Linked DNA regions of Homo sapiens: all the other regions are linked to region 2. The links come from fine-mapping of genetic effects on gene expression. A gene starts in region 2. Each other region holds a variant in brackets. All regions are shown on one strand. Distances are between the middles of the regions.

Region 1 (4,095 bases), 34 kb after region 2:
GAACCTGGGAGCTGGAGGTTGCATTGAGCCGAGACCACACCATTGCGCTCCAGCCTGGGTGACAGAATGAGACTCCATCTAAAAAAAAAAAGCAGCTTGAAAGGAGGCCAGGCCCAGTGGCTTGTGCCTGTAATCCCAGCACTTTAGGAGGCTGAGTCAGGCGGATCACTTGAGGTCAGGAGTTCGAGACCAGCCTGGCCAACATGGTGAAACCCCATCTCTACTAAAAATACAAAAAAAATTAGCCAGGCATGGTGGTGGGCACCTGTAGTCCCAGCTACCCGGGAGGCTGAGGCAGGAGAATCGCTTGAACCTGGGAGGTGGAGGTTGCAGTGAGCCAAGATCGTGCCACTGCACTCTAGCCTGGGAGACAGCGAAACTCCATCTAACAACAACAACAACAAAAACTTGAAAGGCTGAGAGAGTAGAACATTGCAAAGGGGCAGTTTCTTGAACAAGAAACAGAGAGAGAGTTTATGTGTGTATTGCCAGGCACAGTGGCACACACCGTACCCCCAGCTACTCAAGAGGCTGAGGCTGGAGGGTTGCTTGAGCCCGGGAGTTCAGGGCTGTAGTGCGCTGTGTCGATTGAGTGTGTGCAGTAAGTTCAGTGTCAGTATGGTGACCCCCTGGGAGCTGGGGACCACTCGACTGTCTAAGGGGTGGTGAACTGGCCCAGGTCAGAAATGGAGCAGGTCGAAACTCCTGTGCCGATCAGTAGTGGCCTCACGCCTGTAAATAGCCACTGCACTCCAGCCTGGGTGACATAGTAGAGAATCTATTTAATAAAAGAATGTGCTTGTATGAGGGAAGAGTTTGACCTGGAGTGTTAACTGCCAGGGGAAAAGTTTGGGTTTTTTCACTCAATCCAGGGGTTTTTCTGATGCCTATTTAGGTTTGAGATGCGGGGGTGGGGTGGAGAGAGATCAGCTGCCTGAAATCGTAAGCAAAATATTGTATGTGCTTATGTGTTTCTAGAGCGATCCTTCCTTAGCCCCAGCACACCAAGTTTAAAACCGTTGCTAGGCCGGGCGCGGTGGCTCACGCCTGTAATCCCAGCACTTTGGGAGGCCGAGGCGGGCGGATCACGAGGTCAGGAGATCGAGACCATCCTGGCTAACACGGTGAAACCCCGTCTCTACTAAAAATACAAAAAATTAGCCAGGCGTGGTAGCGGGCGCCTGTAGTCCCAGCTACTTGGGAGGCTGAGGCAGGAGAATGGCGTGAACCTGGGAGGCAGAGCTTGCAGTGAGCCGAGATCGCACCACTGCACTCCAGCCTGGGCGACAGAGCGAGACTCCGTCTCAAAAAAAAAAAAAAAAAAACCGTTTCTAAAGGCAGCGGGAAGCCACAAGAGTTTTAAACAAGGGAGAGGGTGGCTTGGGTTGTGTGGCCGGTGGTGTAGGACAAGCTACAGGGACCAGCCTGGGGAGCAGTGAGGCCTGCAGGGGAGCAAACAGGGCAGTTGTTTAGGTGAGAGATGGTGGGGTCTGAATTAAGTCAGTAGGTTGAGCCTGAGGGAGGGAGCATGGGGGGCAGGTGGGGTGAAGGGGTAGAATCCATGAACTTGGGCGCCAGTTGCATATTGACGACCTGATGGTGTAATGAGCAGGGGAGGAAGACACCTCAGACGGTGCTTTGGCTTGGGTGACTGAGCTAAGGGCTGCTTTCCCTTTCTGGGGCGG[G/T]GGGGTGGCCACTTGGAAGCTGGTGCCATTATGAGGAAGGAGAGGGTGCTTATGCTTATAGCCCAGGAAGATTGAAGCCAAGAAGTGCTTTCTTTTTTTTTTGGAGATGGAGTCTTGCTCTTGTTGCCCAGGCTGGAGTACAGTGGCAAGATCTTGGCTCACTGCAACCTCTGCCTCCCAGATTCAAGCGATTCTCCTGCCTCAGCCTCCCAAGTAGCTGGGACTACAGGCGTGCGCCACCACACCCAGCTAATTTTTGTATTTTTAGTAGAGATGTGGTTTCACCATGTTGGCCAGGATGGTCTTGATCTCTTGAACTCATGATCCGCCCACCTTGGCTTCCCAAAGTGCTGGGATTACAGGCGTGAGCCATCGTACCCAGCCAAGAAGTGCTTTCTGTGGGTGATGATATCTTGGCTAGATGTAAAGGGTGTGTTGGAGTTGGCCAGGTGAAAACAAGGGGAGAAAAGTGTTCCGGGCAGAGGAAGGAGCCCTTGGAGGGAATGGGGAACCCAGAGCTTAGGGTGGCTGAAGCCCAGAGTAGGAGGGGTTCTTGGAGTGGCCAGAGGTGGGGGTGCAGAATTGGGAGCCTGGCTTGGGGAGGAGTTGGAGGCCTGGCTTGGGGAGGAGTCGGGGACCTGGCTTGGAGAGGAGTGAGGAGTGTATCCTGGAAGCGTGGGAGAGACTCGTGGAAGGTTTAGGTCTGTGTTGTGAAGCTGGGTTAGCCACAGTACAGCCAGTTCTGCACCCCACGCCTTAAAGCCTGGGCCTCAACTGTTGTAGAATGGAGCTTCACGAACTCTGTGGTGAAGGACCATTTCTGGTGTTGTGTTTTAAGTTTCTAACCTGTTGTGTGTGGACCAAAACTTCTGCAAAGCACAGTAACAATGTGGACCGTGAACCATCACGCTGCTAGAAAGGTTTTGAAATGCTCCCTTTCTGGTTCCATAACCGTCTGTCACCGCTGGGTAGCCCAGGGACCACTCCATAAGTGGCAATACCATGACTGCCATGTCAAAAAGAGGTAGAGGGATGGGACCTGATGCAGGAAGACCGGTTCTGGGGTGACGCAGGTGACAGCAGATCCATGGTGGTGACAGCGGGGACATAGACTGATTGGAGTGATGTCTCGGAGGCCGCCTTGACACTATGTGGCTCGTCACTGGGAGGCACATGCTACTTCTGGCCTGGGTTTCTGGGCAGATGGTGGTGCCAACCATGGTGCGGGGAGCACAGGAGGGGACATAGGTGTAGGGGGTGAGAGGAAACACAGGCCCCTTGGAAACACAGTGGGCCGTGCAGTTGGTGGTTAGGGCCAAAGCTCAGGAATCCAGAATGGAGATGATGGATTTAGGAATCACACCATGCACAATCGCAGCCACAGGAATGAGTAGCTCATGTTGCCCGGCGGTTGCGTAGAGCGGAGGACAGGGCTCAGAACACAGGCCGCGCACCCCAGCATGTGAGGGTCCAACGGGAGAGGGGTTGGTAAAGGGGGAGAAAGGGACTGAGGGGGCGAACACATGGAGGCCAAGGGAGGCAAGCACCTGCGACAGGCCCGGGGGGCTGAGTTGAGTGAGGGTGTCCTCAGCTGCCTGGGGGAAGGAGGGGGGTGCGGGGAGTGGCAAGCAGGCACCAGGCTGAGATAAAGGGGAGGTGAAGATCTGGAGTGAGTCTTGTCTGAGAAATCGTTTAGAGAGGGATCATGGGGTAAAGGGAGAAGTTTCCAACCCAGAATATTCTGATGTGTTTATTTATTTCCTTTTTTATTTTTTGAGATGGAGTCTCACTCTGTCACCCACACTGGAGTGCAGTGGCGCCATCTCGGCTCACTGCAACCTCCACCTTGCAAGCTCAAGCAATTCTCCTGCCTCAGCCTCTCAGGTAGCTGGGATTACAGGTGCCCGCCACCACGCCCGACTAATTTTTTGCATTTTCAGTAGAGACAGGGCCATGTTGGCCAGGCTGGTCTCGAACTCCTGACCTCAGGTGATCACCCGCCTTGTCCTCCCAAAGTGCTGGGATTATAGGCGTGAGCCATCATGCCCAGCCCAATGTGTTTAGATGCTGCTGGGGAGGGACGGGTAAAGAGGGAGGAGTTGGAGAAATAAGAGATAGAAGAAATATCAATAAGCAGTGTCCCTCAGACAGTGGGAGGGGTGGGATTCAGTGCAGAAGTTGGGGGTCATCCTGTAGGGTGGCTTTGGGTGCACAAACTGGAGGGCACAGTCAGCCCCGAGACTTGACTTGAGCGCCCAGTGAGGGGCGACACCTTCCACCTGACACCCCACCTCCCTTATCTTTGGCTTTGTCCTGGTCCCCTTGGAGTGGGGCTCTGGAGGGCTCCAGGGGTACCTGGTCACATTTAGACCAGGCGGCCCCAAGACGGAGAGAGAGGCAGGTCATCTTG
Region 2 (4,095 bases):
AATACCTAGTTCTTACAAGGTATGGCCCAGAGGCTCAGAGCTGTGTGTGTGTGTCTGAAAGGCCACCCCATGGCCCTGGCCCCCAGCTGCCTTATTAGCTGGTTGGTGCTGACTCCAAAAAAATTTTTCTCCCTTGACTATAAAGTGCTCATCTTTTAGTTCCCCCTCGTCCCTGAAACTGTAGGCTAAGACTTTGGTTTTCCAGTTTTTCACTTTGGAATAGGTCATCTTACCCATATCTGCTTAATTTCACAAATGAAGAAACAGCTACACCTTAAGACATGCAGTCTCACAGGGCAAACCAAAGGTTCCTTCCAGCCTGTAAGACTACAGTCAGTCCAGAGCCAGTTTGAGAGCTAGCAGGGATTCCTGGCAAAAGCTTGGTGCAGAACACACTCCCCTCCCCAACAAAAGGCCATGGGCAAAGTGGCTTTGAAGGCAGGATGAGGTTGAACCCAGGCCTACCACCCACCAGCTGTGTGGCTCTGAGCTCATCTCTTCACTCCTGTGCACATGTCCCCATTTGGGGGGTGAGAATACCCCAGAGTTGTGAGAACTAAAACACAAAGCATGTCAGTGTGTCAGTGGAAGTATCTGACACTCAGCTGTGCTGTAGGGTGCCTATAGTTATACTTTCCTAATTTCACTGTGCCTATGTTTAACAGCTCTGCTGAGACATGGTGTCCCAAGGATGTGACTTTACTCTGATCCACAGAGGGTACAGCTGGAGGATATTAGGGTGCAGAGCTTGGCCTCCTATCAGCATCTCTAGAGTTTTGGGATAGGTTGCAGCTCCCCACTACCCCTGCCTGCAGGGACTACCATGCCTGTGTCCATGTATCCAGAAGGGCCTAGGGCCTTTGAGAATGCAAGGATAAGCTAAGATACCTTCCAACATTTGGGGAGCCAAGTTGGGTTGCTGCTTTCTACTTTTCTTTGAGACTGGGTCTCGCTCTGTCACCCAGGCTGCAGTGCAGTGGCGCCATCATAGCTCACTGGAACCTTGACCTGGGCTCAAGCCGATCCACCCACCTCAGTCTCCCTAGTAGTGGGTACCACAGGCGTGCGCCACCACGCCTGGCTAATTTTTGTATTTTTTGCAAAGATGAGGTTCTGCCATGTTATCGATGCCACGATCTCCAACTCCTGAGCTCAAGCAATCCGCCCACCTTGGCCTCCCAAAGTGCTGGGATTCCAAGCTTGACTCACTGCACCCAGCCGGTTGCTGCTTCTAATTTGACAAGTAAAAACACTGTAACGGAATTTTAACACCCTTTCCCCGAAAAAGTTGGAGGCACACGATGTGGAGAACAAATTATAGCCCTTGAATTAGTATAAGATCATCTTACTGAAAACCTCGTCCTGTTTTCCTCCACTGGGGCCTCCTGGGGCTGGTCCATCCCGGCTGGTCCTTGGACATCAGCCGTCAGGGCCCGGCACCTCCCCCTTCTGCAGAGCCTTGGAGACAGGTGTCCAAGGACGCTACCATGACCACGGTCCCCAGTGTGGCCAGGAAGCCTAAGACAAGTCGCTTCCCCATTCTGGACTTCGGTCTGTGAAATGCGGACAGTGATACCTACCGCACCGCGTTCCTAGGATTCAGTGGGATGATACCAGGGCCACGCCCGAGAACTGCGCACGTCGCGGTGGTTTCCAGAACATGATTCCAGGGATCGGGTGCTCCGGGATAGTCCCACTGCCAGAGTTTGGCCACGAGCGTGCGCCCCCAGTTTGCAGAGCGAGTTTAGCCCAAGAGCTTTTCACAAATGGTTTCTTTCCCTAAAAGGCCTTTTACCTTTGGTGTCAGCCGCCGCCAGCCATCAGGAATCAGGAATCTAGTTAGCGGTTGCCCTTGTATCCCTGGTCGAGGCCCTGATGTTTGGCCCACGCACAGACGCCGACGCTGCGAAGCCCTCCGCGCTTCTGTTCGCCCGTCCCGTTCGAGCTCCGGCTCCCGGTCACTGGGACCGCCCACGTCTCAGGTGGCACAGCTTGGACGCAGGTCTGTGTCCCCTTCTTCCGCTTCCGGCCTCGGCTCCGCCGGAAGCGCATCTACAGTGGACTGGGCCTGCACTCGAGACGTGGTGGCTGGCGCGTCGGCCGGCGCGGAGGGATGACGCGAGGAGGCAGCGACCAATGGGAAACGGCGTAGACCGGGGCGCCTGCCCCCCCGCCCAGCCCCGCCCCCGCCCGGCGTCGGGCCGTCGGACGGGCTGGAAGGGGCGGCCGCTCGGGCAGGATGGCGGCGGCCGCGGTGGGCGCGGGCCACGGCGCGGGGGGCCCGGGCGCAGCGAGCAGCAGTGGTGGGGCGCGCGAGGGCGCGCGGGTGGCGGCGCTGTGCCTGCTGTGGTACGCGCTGAGCGCGGGCGGCAACGTGGTCAACAAGGTGATCCTGAGCGCCTTCCCGTTCCCGGTGACCGTGTCGCTGTGCCACATCCTGGCTCTGTGCGCTGGGCTCCCGCCGCTGCTGCGCGCCTGGCGCGTGCCCCCCGCGCCGCCCGTCTCGGGCCCCGGACCCAGTCCGCATCCGTCGTCCGGCCCGCTGCTGCCGCCGCGCTTCTACCCGCGCTACGTGCTACCGCTCGCCTTCGGCAAGTACTTCGCGTCCGTGTCAGCGCACGTCAGCATCTGGAAGGTGCCCGTGTCCTATGCACACACCGGTAGGTTCCGCGCCCGGCCTCGGGGGCGGCGGCCGGGCCCGCCGCTTCGGGTTTGGGCGCATGGATAGGAGTGCGCCGCCCGGGGCGCGTCCCGCCGGACTGAGAAGTCAGCAGAGGGGCTGCCAAGGGTTTGGTAGGGGAGGGACACGCACGGGGTTCTCAGGGAGAAGAGGAGCTGAGAAGAGAGCTGAGAGGTAAGCAGGACAGACCACAACAGCCGTGGCAGGAGGAAGCCCTACCGAAAGAGAAGGGGCGAAGAGGTGTGAGGGGCTGCCAGGCCCTCCCATCCCGCCGTGGAGGTGGAACAGGTTGGGCCCTGAAATTCAGGCAGCCCCCTGAGTGCCCATCCCTCTCTTTGCAGTCAAGGCCACCATGCCCATCTGGGTGGTCCTCCTGTCCCGGATCATTATGAAGGAGAAGCAGAGCACCAAGGTAACCCCGGGCAGGGACTCTGGGCAGATGGGAGCTCCAGGGGGTTCCTCCCTGTTGCCAACTGGTGACGTGGTCAGGATCCTGGTCTGCAGGCTGCCTGGCTTCCCGTCAAATAGGGAAGTCAGTGTAGAGGTCTCCAGTGGCCTTTTACTACTCAAGTTCTAGAATCACCCTGTGAGCAGTGGTGTGTGGAGTATGTGTCCCTCTGTGATCTCTGCTGTGTGGTCTTAGGAACACTGTTGTCCCTTTCAGATCCAATTTTCCTCCCCGTTTTGATTCCCTACCTGGGTTTGCTGGTAGGTGATGGGTTGGTCACATCTTGGCCATACACCCCATGTGTGGCCTTTCCAGTGGGACTAGGGATGGATGGATCAGAACGCTGTCGGTTAGGTGTTCACTTTTTTTTTTTTTTTTTTGAGACGGAGTTTTACTCTTGCCCAGCCTGAAGTCCAGTGACACAATCTCAGCTCACTGCAACCTCCGCCTCCCAGGTTCAAGCAGTTCTCCTGCCTCAGCCTCTCAAGTAGTTGGGACTACAGACGTGCACTACCACACCTGGCTAATTTTTTTGTATTTTTAATAGAGACAGGGTTTCACCATGTTGCCAGGCTGGTCTCAAACTCCTGACCTCAAGTGATCCGTCCGCCTCAGCCTCCCAAAGTGCTGGTATTACAGGCGTCAGCCACTGCACTTGGCTAGGTTTTCACTTCTTGACAAGAGATTTCTGTCAGGGGACCTCTGGGATCAGAAGCCAGACGCGATCCAAGGAGTTCGATCTTGGCAAAATCCAGCAAAGTCTTAGAAATTAAAACAGCCAGAAGTTGTGATGGTCTGGGAACGGAAGCGAAAGTGGCACACAGGACTCAGGGCTGCATAAGGAGGATGCTTTGGGCACAGTCCAAATTCTGTTCAAGATGCCAAGCCAGGGTATTTCCTGGCTTGGGGCAAGAATAGCCATGGCTTTAGCCGGAGACAGCTTTATCCCGTATTCTTAAGTGGAAGT
Region 3 (4,095 bases), 54 kb after region 2:
GGGCAGTGCCTGAGGCCTCTTCCTGTGGCCTCCCCACGACGCCTGGCTGCTGCTGACCCTTGGGCACCCTTCCCTGCAGAAGTCGGAGCAGGTCGCGCTCCTCCAGAAGCCGCTCCCGGTCCCAGTCGCGGTCCCGGTCCAAGTCGTACTCCCCAGGAAGAAGACGCCGGTCACGGTCCAGGAGCCCCACCCCGCCGTAAGATCCTGTCTTAAGTGCTGCGCTGGTAACTCTGGGAAGCTGCGGTGCTTTGCTGTGAATGTGGAAACATTGGTGGTTAGGAGACTGTGTTAGGAGGCCGCCAGCATTAGCCCGGGGACAGTGGCACCCCTCACCCTTCACCACAGTAGCCACTTGGCGAAGCCTGAGGCAGTAACTGGGGTCTGCTTTCTAACCACCATCTGGGTTGGAGGTGTCCTGCTCTCAATGCTGAGCGTGGGGTGGGGGCCAGCGTCTGGAGCCCCCTTATCTAGCTGAGACAGGATAAACGGGTAGAGACGCAAAATCTGCATACGGTGTCACCTGGTGACAGTGAGCATGCACGCAAGCTGCGGCTGTGAGGTCCTCATCACTGTCATTCCAATAAATGTCTCAGTTACTTCTTAAAAAGAATAACCTGTCTCGATTTTAGTTCCTCTGCTGGTCTGGGTTCTAATTCGGCGCCTCCCATCCCTGACTCAAGGCTCGGAGAAGAGAACAAAGGCCATCAGATGCTGGTGAAGATGGGTAAGGCGAGGGAATGGGGAGGGCGCGGGATGGGTCCTCACGCGTGCTGGGCCCGGGAGTCACCAGCGCTTTCTCTTCCTCAGTGCATGTGGGGATGGATGGAGTCAGGCCGGTTCTGACTCCACCCAGACCCTCTAGACAGGGCCGGCCTGCGGGTTCTCTCTACCCATTTCCCATGTCTACACTGCCTGTCTGGACATTCAGCCCCCCACGTGCACCCCCATCTGCCTCCGCCTTGTTGTGGTTGTGACTGCGTCTCTGTTTCCAGGCTGGAGCGGCTCAGGCGGCCTCGGTGCGAAGGAGCAAGGGATCCAGGACCCCATCAAGGGCGGGGACGTCCGGGATAAGTGGGACCAGTATAAAGGCGTGGGCGTGGCTCTGGATGACCCCTATGAGAACTACCGCAGGAACAAGAGCTACTCCTTCATCGCCCGCATGAAGGCCAGGGACGAGTGTAAGTAGGCGCCCATGCCGGGAGCCGCGCCGGTGGCCAGCGGTGCCGGCTGTGGGACCTTCCTGGCTGACTGGCAGAGGAAGATTGCAGTGACAGCTCAGTTCTTACACCGTCTCCACTTGTGGAGAGCCACAGGAAGAGAAGGAAGACCAGCGCATGCCCAGTGGGAACGCCGTGCTCCATGGCGTGGAGGGCACGGGTGCCACCCACAAACCACACCAGGAGGCGCTGCAGCCACCAGGGCCCCAGGCTCGTTTTCCTTTATAGCGAAGCAAAAAACACAAGACCCTCCGCCCGAGTAAATTCTTCAGCCACGAAGGGATGGATGTGCATCTGCCCTAAGTCAGATTGAAGCCTCCTCCTAGGCTCCAGGAGGAGCATGTGCAGGAAGGGTTGGCCTGAGCCAGAGCCGGCACCCCAGCTCCTTCCTCCAGCTCCCCGCACCCACCGGCCCTGACCTGGCTTCCCCTCGGCTGTGTAGGGACAAAGCCGAAGCCCAGTGCCATGACTGCCCGCGGATTGAAAAACAGAAACACAAAACTTTGACTTGACTTGCGAAGTGAAGCAGGGTTTTCATTTTTACTCTCCTTGGTTTAGGTCTAGAAAGAAGAATACTGACCTGAGAGGAGGCCCAGTGAGATTCTGAAACCTAATTCTTCGAAGGCGTACTGGCCCTTAGTTCAGTTATTTTAGTTGTATAAGTTGATATTTTTTTTCTGGAATGTAGCCATTTGCTGTTATCTGGGAAACAAGATTCTAACAGGAAACCAGCCTAAGACACTTCAGGTTGAGCGCTGCCTCGGAGTCTGTGCCCGTCGCGTCCCCTGCTTGAGTTTTGCACTTGGAAGAACCCTGCACCGGCTGGCGTGTGCGACGGCCCAGTCCCATCCAGAGCATGGAGCCCGACCCCAGCCAGCGCCTTCCACTCCATCATTTCATTTCACACCCCCGAAGGGAGGGGAGGCCAGGAGGGGAGCTGCTCCTGCCAGAAGCTGGTGGGTGACCGTTGGGAATCGGCCACAC[C/G]TGGTGTCCATGGGCAGCCTGGTGCAATTCCATTCATTTGTACAGAAACATTTTTGAAAAATTCTTTTCAATAAGATGCAAAATCTTCCAACTTTTCAACCCAACGTGATGAATATTTGATTTTGTTCTAGATTTCCTGTAGCTGTGAATTGTTAAAATGTATGATTCAGGATAAAACGTAAACACGTGCTGTTAGTAATTTCTTGTGGATTTCATTGTTTTGCCTTCAAATAAAGCCTTTTTTTAAAGACCTTTCTCCCGCACATGTGTAAGTCAGAAGTGTGCACGGGCTGAGTGAGGAGACACATGTCCTGGTTTGAGCTGTGCAGCCTGGGGTCAGAGGCCGTGTCCAGGGGCTCACATGGCGTCCCCAGCGTGCTGACCTGGTCCCATGTCCTTACCCTCGAGCAGGGCTTCTCCCATCCACCCTGTCTCCCTCTGGCTCACTGGGATGCCAGGACCTGCCTGGGTGGAGCTGCTCTGCAGAGGCTGGTGGCCCCTGTCCTGCTGTGAGTGGGGACAGCTCCACTGAAATTCTATTTCCACTGGCCTGTGGTGTCATAGAGCTGGGCATGCTGCTGGGAGAGCTGTCACTGAGCTGGGATTTGGCTCAGAGGAGTCTGGGGCCCTCACCGCAGCACCACCTGCCCCACCATGGAATGTCACACCTGGATGCTGACTGTGTGTGTGTGTGTCCATCACCCCAGTACCACCTGCCCCCACCACGGAACGTCACACTTGGACACTGATGAGCTCTATGTTTGTGTGCGTGTGTGTGCACTGAGTACACAGGACGGGATACCTTTTGTTAAGACGTCACGTCAAGCTCCACCTGCTGGCGCTCACAGCTCCTTGTTCACCTCCTCCAGGGCATCCTCCATGGTCAGTGGGGCAGGTCTGTGGCACCTAATGTACTGTCAGGCAGAGAACAGACCACGCCATCACCATCGTCACCTCAGTACACTCTGAGACAGGGTGCTGGAGGAGGGAGTGGAGCCAGCACCTGTCCCCAGCAGGCTCCTGTCAGTGACAGAAGTGTAAAACCACAGGATGTGTGTGACAGGTTGGCGCACGGGGCTGTGGGAACACAGGGTAGAGGGTCAGCCCTGCGAGGGGTGAGCCCTGACAGAGAAAGGGAGGGGTGCCTGTGAGTGCCCTTGGAGTGGCTGAGATCAGGGAGAAGCGCCTGGAGCAAGCAGCTGGGAGCTATGGTGGGCTGCAGCCAGGTGGCACAGTCAGATGGCTTCTGCCTGCATCGGATGGGCTGATGGACGCCCAACAGAGGCATGAGTTCAAAGCCCCCAGAGGGCTGCAATGAGCAAAGTTGACATTGTAGAGACCCGTGGGACTCACAACCTGCCCTCTTCAGCAGATAAACCACAAGGAAACGAGAGGCCTGGCATGCAGGGGACTCGGCACAGTTCCAAAGCAGCGTCCCGGGGCATGTGGGAGAAACGCCTAGCTCCAGGCCCACCCCGCCTGCTTGCGGGCCCAGCATCGCTTTCACAGGGCTTCCAGGGGATCCCCAACCGCTCAGCATTGAGAACCGGTCGCTGCTCTAGATTAAGAGGCTCAAAGGACATATCGGATAGTATGGACTTTGGATCCGAATTACCAAATCGGAACAAAACACACAACTTTAAATCAGACAAGCAGAAATCTCAACACTGGATATTCCTTGATACTTAGTAAATTTGGTTTGTGTATTATTGCATTATGGTTGTTTGTTTGAGACAGAGTCCCGCTTTCTCCCTCACTACAGCCTCAACCTCCCCAGCTCAAGTGATCCTCCCACCTCAGCCTCCCAGAGAGCTGGGACTACGGGCACACACCACTATGCTAAACTTAAACTAGTTTTCTTGTATTTTTTAATAGAGATGGAGTCTTGCTATGT

Evidence for each region. PIP is the estimated chance that this variant, and not a neighbour inherited with it, causes the effect.
Region 1: its variant is the best candidate, but not a certain one, in a credible set for the expression of SLC35E1 in whole blood (INTERVAL, PIP 0.54).
Region 3: its variant is the best candidate, but not a certain one, in a credible set for the expression of SLC35E1 in whole blood (TOPMed, PIP 0.50).

Annotation. Positions count from the first base shown.
Region 1 is chr19:16,536,377-16,540,471 of GRCh38, reverse strand. All of the region lies in intron 2 of CHERP (calcium homeostasis endoplasmic reticulum protein), which reads left to right. It also overlaps the pseudogene RN7SL146P. Among named protein-coding and RNA genes, the nearest start is that of CHERP, 4.0 kb to the left of the region's middle. The variant G/T (reference allele first, on the strand shown) is at 1,686.
Region 2 is chr19:16,570,509-16,574,603 of GRCh38, reverse strand. It overlaps SLC35E1 (solute carrier family 35 member E1), which reads left to right and starts at 2,189. Exons shown (of 6, transcript NM_024881.5): 1 at 2,189-2,660; 2 at 3,022-3,092. The coding sequence starts at 2,240. It overlaps LOC105372295 (a long non-coding RNA gene), which reads right to left and starts at 2,054. Exons shown (of 3, transcript XR_936360.3): 1 at 1,796-2,054. RefSeq lists enhancers at 1,883-1,972, 1,280-2,154 and silencers at 2,073-2,292, 2,423-2,532, 2,693-2,822.
Region 3 is chr19:16,516,250-16,520,344 of GRCh38, reverse strand. It overlaps C19orf44 (chromosome 19 open reading frame 44), which reads right to left. Exons shown (of 9, transcript NM_032207.4): 8 at 3,004-3,115; 9 at 1-251. The coding sequence ends at 3,044. It overlaps CHERP (calcium homeostasis endoplasmic reticulum protein), which reads left to right. Exons shown (of 17, transcript NM_006387.6): 15 at 80-196; 16 at 630-724; 17 at 993-2,451. The coding sequence ends at 1,186. Among named protein-coding and RNA genes, the nearest start is that of C19orf44, 22 kb to the right of the region's middle. The variant C/G (reference allele first, on the strand shown) is at 2,202.